Homo sapiens: one gene and its partner. The protein of the gene in region 1 purifies or fractionates together with the protein of each later gene. This does not show direct contact. Each region holds a gene or a part of one and is shown on either strand. Other genes may lie near its edges.

The links. The genes of interacting proteins can lie anywhere in the genome.
Region 2: the proteins of APOBEC3B (region 1) and TNRC6B purify together in Homo sapiens (affinity purification with mass spectrometry, with the first as the bait; one study listed by BioGRID). This does not show direct contact.

The regions. Positions count from the first base shown.
Region 1 is NC_000022.11:38,980,712-38,984,463, reverse strand, and holds the start of APOBEC3B (DNA dC->dU-editing enzyme APOBEC-3B), read right to left. Parts: upstream 2,118-3,752; 5' UTR 2,011-2,117; coding exon 1,994-2,010; intron 390-1,993; coding exon 233-389; intron 1-232.
Region 2 is NC_000022.11:40,257,900-40,261,551, forward strand, and holds part of TNRC6B (trinucleotide repeat-containing gene 6B protein), read left to right. Parts: intron 1-1,142; exon of another isoform or gene 1,143-2,469; intron 2,470-3,652.

The DNA of each region.
Region 1 (3,752 bases):
TTATGCTATAGATTATGTGACCTGTCACTGTTTGATTAATCGCCTTTGTTCTGCTTCTGTAAGTTTGCTTATAAATACCTCAGTCTGTCTTTGTTAAGGGCTCAGCCTTTTTGGATGTGAGTCTGCTGAACCAGTGCACCTAAATAAATCCTCCTGTCTCACCCATATCAGTCTCTCCAGTCCTCTAATTCCTGCAACACTGCCTGTGATTCGATTGAAGTTTGGGTGGTACCTGGCCTCGAAAGACCCCTGTGTCCCAAAGGAGATTTGAGCGGCCCCTCTTTATTTTCACTTCATAGCACAGCCAAGTGTAGCTCCGACCATAGAGGATGGGTTCGTTTTCAAAGTTGTCGTAGAATGTGTCTCGATACATCCGCTCCATCGGATTTCTGAAGGCACAAGAGAGAAACCGGCCCATGCAGGGAGCCCTCCCGGGAGTCCTCGGGGCTCATGTCCACTGAACACAGCTCCCAGGATGGCCCTGGGCCTCCCCGACCCCTCCACAGCCCTGAGAATTTCTGCTGCCTTCCCAGGCAGGAAGACTGAGGGGAGAGGAAGAGGAGGGGATGCTGGCAGGCGGGCTGGGGTGATCTCTCCCAGCTCGGGTCCAACTCTGGCCTTTCCAGGGGTACATTCCCCACCCTCCTAGTATTTCTGCCAACCCACTCCCCAACCCATTAGGAGAATGCAAAAGAGAATAAAACCCTTCACCCCTAAAAAATAGCTTTTAACCTTTCAGCTCAATTCCTTCCTGATGTTTCACTCTGCGTGTTAACATTATTTTAAAATCATGGTAGAACTGAATTCTGAGGCCCAGGCCACTCTTCTAAGTGCTGAGCGGGTGTGAGCTCACGTGAGGCTACCCTAGGCCTGCAGGGGCCATTCCCATCTTACAGAGGAGATGCCAGAGGCACAGAGAGGCGGGGTAACCTGCCGAGGCCACAGAGCTGGGGACGGATGGAGCAGGGGCCCCTTTCCAGGCCAGCCCTGTCCAGCCTCTGCATCACGGATCCTGTAGGAGAAAGCTGTTGGGGACTGGGCTCTCTTTTCACTAAATTTTAAAATCAGAGCATTTCTCCTCATCATTGCACTTTTTTCCCACATTCTCACATTCCATGTTACTGATCATGTTCTTTCTTTTTTTTTTTGATGAAGTCTCACTCTGTCGCCCAGGCTGGAGTGCAGTGGCATGATCTCAGCTCACTGCAACCTCCACCTCCCAGGTTCAAGCAATTCTCCTGCCTAAACCTCCTGAGTATCTGGGACTAGAGATGCGCCACCATGCCTGGCTAATTTTTGTATGTTTTTTAGTAGAGACGGGGTTTCACCATATGGGCCAGGTTGGTCTCAAACTCCCGACCTCATGATCCGCCCGCCTTGGCCTCCCAAAGTGTTGGGATTACAAGTGTGAGCCACCACGCTCAACCACTGGTCATGTTCTAAAAGATGAAGAGTGACCTTGGAGTGGAACCTGTCTGGGGACATCTGCTCACCATGGAGTCATCCTTGGATGACACGATTTATCATGTGCTTCAGAGACCATTCCTACCCCCGCACCCTCTCCTAAGACTTTGTATTTAAGCAAAGTAATTCTTACAGAAATTTCATCAAAACACTGAGAACAAAAATGCCTGATTGCTCCAATTACCCTTTGGTTCAATTCTCCCAGTTTCTGAGCTCAGGAGTGGCAGGAAGCACACAGAGGGAGCACCCTCCCAGGGCGGGGAGCACCAGTCCGGGCATGACTTTAAGGGAGAGTCTCAGCACGGGGCCTGGGCTGGTGCAGGTAGGGGAGGCAGCCCATTCAGAAGCAGCAGTGGGGTGACCACACAGCAGGACAAAGAGCCTGACTGGGATTCGTGTGGCAGGGGAGCCAGAGGGGAGGGAGCCCAGGGCTGGGGCAGGGGCGGGGGGAGGCCAGGGTTGAGGCCCAGCAGGACCACCAGGCAGGAAGGGGCAGGAGGGGCCCAGCAGGCAGAGTGGGCAGCGGTACCTGATCTGTGGATTCATGTTCAGCCTCTTAGATACGCTTGTCCCTGTCCCGCTCTTTTTTTGAAGCTCTGTGGTTTCACTTCCTGCTTACAGCGTCCTTGCAGTTGGACAGCCCTCCTTAAAGTGACCTCCCAGGGCCTTATGAGTCATGGCCCCTCCCCATTCCTGCTCAGGCATTGGTGTGGGAGGCCCCGGGGTGCTTCATGTTTCTCTGGCTCTGGCTCTGGCTCTGGTTTTCCCCGGACCCTTCCCGCTGGCAGAGGAACCTCCAATAAAGACAGGCTGCTCTGTCTTTATCTGTCCTGGGCAGGACCCAACGGAATTGCAAAGAGAAAGAGAAAGGCATTGCAGCCTGAGCCTGGGAGGCGGGTCCAGACCCAGCTGAGAGAGGGGCAGGTGCCCCGTTGCCTGGTGGTTGGGCAGGCTGGAGCCCCCTCTCCACCACCCCCTCCCCAGCCCTAATGTGTGCCCAGAGCTTTGAGCAGCACCACCCTGTTGAGTGAGGGGAGGTTTTGAGACTCCAGTGGGGAAGGAAGTGTGGACTCCGCACAGCACAAGGGAAGGCTTAGGTGTGCCTCGAGTTCCCAGCTGTGTGCTGGGTCCATGGCATGCGTCCCCTCTTCCAACCTCCCAGCTTCCAGAAGGTGGGGGGCAGGTCAGCCCCTCAGAGGGACTGCGATGTCTGCGACACCAAGGAAGGGAGAAGGGTGTCTATAAACAGGCTCACTGCCCAGGGACCTCTCAAGGGGTTCTTTGTGGGCCAAGAAAACGGGAAACACATACACACACAGCTTTCTGATTATTTAAGTCCATCTAAGCATATTTTGGAGGAATGAATGTACATTGAAATAATCTTCCTAAATAGATTCCTTTAAGGGGAGTTTGTTCCAGCTGGAGAAGTTGTGCTCTCTGTAGAGGCTCTGAACTCCTCTGGCTACGACGACGGGAATGCAGACAGGGAGGAGGATGCGTGGGTGGTAGGGGGAGCAGCAGCGCCCCTACCTGCACAGAAGCTTGTCCAACCTCTGCACAAAGCGGACTCCCAGTGGTTGTTTTTGGAAGGTGAGTTTTCTTTTCTTTCTTTTTTTTTTTTTAAATCTTCCCCAGTATAAATCTTTTAATTTAAAAGTAAATTTTATTGTCGAAAATGCAAACTTGGGGAGGGCAGAAAGATCACACACAGGGCTGTCACTTCACACCTGGGGGGTTGCTGGGAGCCGTCCAGAAGCGCTCCTCACTTCCCAGACGGTGCGGGGGCCGTCCAGAGGCGCTCCTCACTTCCCAGACGGTGCGGGGGCTGGGCAGAGGCGCTCCTTACTTCCCAGACGGTGGGACAGCCAGGCAGAGGCGCTCCTCTGGAAGGTGAAGTTTTCTGTTGCCGTCAGAAAGAGATGGACAAAGGATAAGACCATCGGTGGAAAATAAACAGTTCCGTTTATCAGAAACATACTTTGTAAAAGAAAATGTAATAATGACCCTAGACCAGGGAGGCATCCTCCAACCCAGCTGTAAGGCGGCAGTTAAGGCACAGTGGGGAAGGGACACCAGCTTTGCAGCCAGGCGACTCTGAGATCTGCCCCTTCCTTACTGTGTGACCTTGGGTGGTTTACTTAATGTCTCCAGGCCTCTAATTGCAGGCGTGAGCCACTTGCCCAGCCCATTTTATTATTTTGAAAACGTTTTCGGGCAAGGTGTGGTAGCTCATACCAGTAATCCCAGCACTGTGGGAGGCCGAGGTGGACGGATGACTTGAGGTCAGG
Region 2 (3,652 bases), 1.3 Mb from region 1:
GCTACTCGGGAGGCTGAGGCAGGAGAATCACTTGAACCTGGAAGGTGGAGGTTGCAGGAAGCTGAGATCCTGCTACTCCACTCTAGCCTGGGCAACAGAGCAAGACTCAGTCTCAAAAAACAAACAAAAAAAGAAGTAAATGAATGGAAATCAGAAAATAGGATACACAGCCTTTTTTTTTTTTTTTTTTTTTTTTTTTTTTACCCCACAATGTTTTTATTTCCCTATAGTACTGAGATCATGTTTAAGCCACAAACCTTTCCTCTGGAAGATAAGAAACTATGCACTTACTTTGAACAGCTCATCTTTAGAAAAACTTGCACAACTTACAAATCCTTAAGATTCAGAAAAGAGACAGCCTGAAAAGTAACATATTCAGACTTTTAATGATAGCTTCTCTTGCCCTTTATCGTCTAACATTCTGGACCATGATGATGGGTGATGCACACTGATTCTGATGTCTTAAGTTTGGACTTTGGGAGTCAATTTGGATCAGACATCCTGCCTGAAAAGCTGTGTTGCTCTCCAATTAGTGCCGGCAATTCTGGTTGGCCTTTAAAAGCTTAACATTCTTGGATTCACAGAAAGGTGTGATTTAAAAAATAGAGTAAGAATTCATTCAGGTGCTGAAACACAGTTTGCTATGACTAAGGTGGTGTCTTGGGCGTTTTCTGACTGTTTCCTGGAGGTTTTGTTTTTTTCTTTTTATACTTTGACCTATTTGTACATGATGTCCTGGAGTTTGAATGACTAATCTCCTGGGCCAGAGCACACTGTATTGGGAGGAAAGTGGTTGAGGTGTGTTCCCATTTTATAATGACTTTATCATTTACAATCCATTCTGTCTCTGATGTGGTGGGAAAGTGCCCTGAGGAACTTTTGCAAGGAATCTTACATGATACGTGATACCTACCAAATTTCTTCAGTTGAAACAGTGCTGTGAATGTTTTAAAGTGAGTCAAACTGGTGTTCAGCCCTCAGTCCTGCAGGTCACTCTGTCATGTCTTGTTGTTTTTCTGGATTGAGTTAAAAGTATGTAGTAGACCTGGGTAACTTATAATGAAGATTCTTGACCTTTATAGCAGGGCAGCCTTACAGAAACATAGCTCTTTCTGTCCTAAAAACCAGTTGGGATGAATTTCTCCAGTCTCTGCCAACTTCTTGTTTATTCTCATAATAAGATAAAAGGGGATTGCGAATGCCCTGTGCTATAGAATCCTCCAGTAACAGATAGAAAATTAATATTAAATAATCTTCATTCATTCATTTACCAGTTATGTATCCATCTGTTGTTATAGGTCATGAATATTAGATAATGACTAATTTTCTTTTCTTTTTTTTTTGAGACAGAGTCTTGCTCTGTGGCCCAGGCTGGAGGGCAGTGGCACGATCTCGGCTCACTGCAACCCCCGCTTCCCAGGTTCAAGCAATTCTCGTCCTCAGCCTCCTGAGTAGCTGGGAATACAGGCGCATGCCACCACGCCCAGCTAATTTTTGTATTTTTAGTAGAGACTAGGTTTCACAATGTCGGCCAGGATGGTCTCGATCTCCTGACCCTGTGATCTACCCACCTCGGCCTCCCAAAGTGCTGGGATTACAGGCGTGAGCCATCGCGCCTGGCCGACTAATTTTATTTTCTTAAGTCACACATTTATTCTGCTCATCAGATTTTGGATCCTCTGACCTCCACTCCCCCTCCCCTTACTGGGAGGCCTGGTGCTGCCTTGTGATTAGCTGAGGTTAGACATGGGGTTACCTGGAAATTGCTGCAGGCACCTGCTCTTTTCTCCTGTCACCCACAGTATGTTAATGTCCAGTAGTGGCATAGATTGGGCCGCCTGATTTCTGATGATGTATCTCTCTCATAAAGGAGCCAGTTCAGCAAGCAACATGCTGGCCCCGCATCATTTTAGCAGTCAAAGCAGTACTACCCCCAGAGTTGGCCCTGACGTTACCCTGGGAGGCAGGGATTTGGGCCTCAGAATCATCCGAACTGTCAGGCTTGATGATTATTTCTGTACGACTTCCAGCCTCTATTTGCCAGGTAGATTTTTATGGAGAGGGTAGTGATCTTCTGGCAGCATGCAGCGAGGGAGGTACAGATCTAAGAGAGCCTTCTCTGTATGTTCGACGGGAAGAGCCAGAGGGTCCGGCAGAGTGCGGTTTCACGGTTGCCCCGACATTCCCACGCTGTGTGCGGGCCATTTTTAAAATTAAGTTTAAAAAAATCAAATGATTTAAAGTAAACAGAAAAAGTATTTACATTTTGAAATTTCTATTTTAAAGAATTGGGAAGAAACACTTTTTTTTTTTTTTAAAGAAAAGCAAAAAGATTTGTAACATTTCTAGTATTTACACAGAGAGCGGTGCAAGTCTTTGAGTCCAGGTAGCTGTAGAAACCAGAACCAAGCTGAGTTTGTGATTTTCTAGGCCTGGAGTTTCTTGTAAGAGTCCACTCTGTGCCATGCCCTAAGGAAGAAAGAAAAGATGAAAGATGGGTCCTTGCCCTCAGGAAGTCATGGCCTGGTGAGGGAGAAGGACTTGTAAATGGAGAATTTCTGTGATAGAGAGAGATGGGACTTGTAGATGGAGAATTTCGGTGGTAGAGATAGATGGATTTTTGAATGGAGAATTTTCATGGTAGAGAGAGATGGATGATGTGTTCCAGGAGCACTTAGGAAGAATGTTTAGCCCATCTAGGCCAGGGGCTTCAATAAAGTTTACTCAGGGGTAGATCTTTTAAGAATGTGGATGAAGGGAAGGGACCCTTGGACTGAGGCTTGAAACCTTTCCCAAGGACTTTGCCATGGACATTTAACTCTTCTAGGCAGCACTTCAGGGAATTAATTCCACTGTTGATTTAGGGGAGTGAATGTTGATTGCTTCCCTCTCCGCCTTAATTAATGGAATGTATTCCATGACCTTGCTGTGTTTAAATTCTTGTCACTGTCAGCCGCCACCTTCATCCTACCTTCAGCAAACTGGAGAGATTGTGGAGAATTTGGAAAAACTGTTTCCCTTGAGAGTAGAGTAAAAGGAGAAGTTACTTTGTTAGAATTGGTACCATGTAAGCTTTCTTACAAATAATCTTAGCCAGGGTCTGGGTGTGGTGGCTCACACCTGTAATCCCAGCACTTTGGGAGGCCGAGGTGGGTAAATAGCTTGAGTTCAGGAGTTCGAGACCAGTCTAGGTAGGCAACATGGCAAAACCCTGTCTCTAGAGGAGGAAAAAAAAATTAGTTGGGCATAGTGGTGTATGCATTGTAGTCCCAGCTACTCAAGAGGCTGAGGTGGGAGGATCACTTGAGCCCTGGAGGTAGAAGTTGCAGCAAGCCAAGATCACTGCACTCCAGCCCGAGTTATACAGCAAGACCTCATCTCAAAAAAATAAAAAATAGGCTGGGTGCAGTGGCTCATGCCTGTAATCTCAACACTTTGGGAGGCCAAGGCAGGCGGATCATGAGGTCAGGAGTTCAAGACCAGCCTGGTCAACATAGTGAAAACCTGTCTGTACTAAAAATACAAAAAATTAGCTGGTTTTGGTGGTGGGCGCCTGTAATCCGAGCTACTTGGGAGGCTGAGGCAGGAGAATTGCTTGAACCTGGGAGGCGGAGGTTGCAGTGAGCGGAGATTGCACCACTGCACTCCAGCC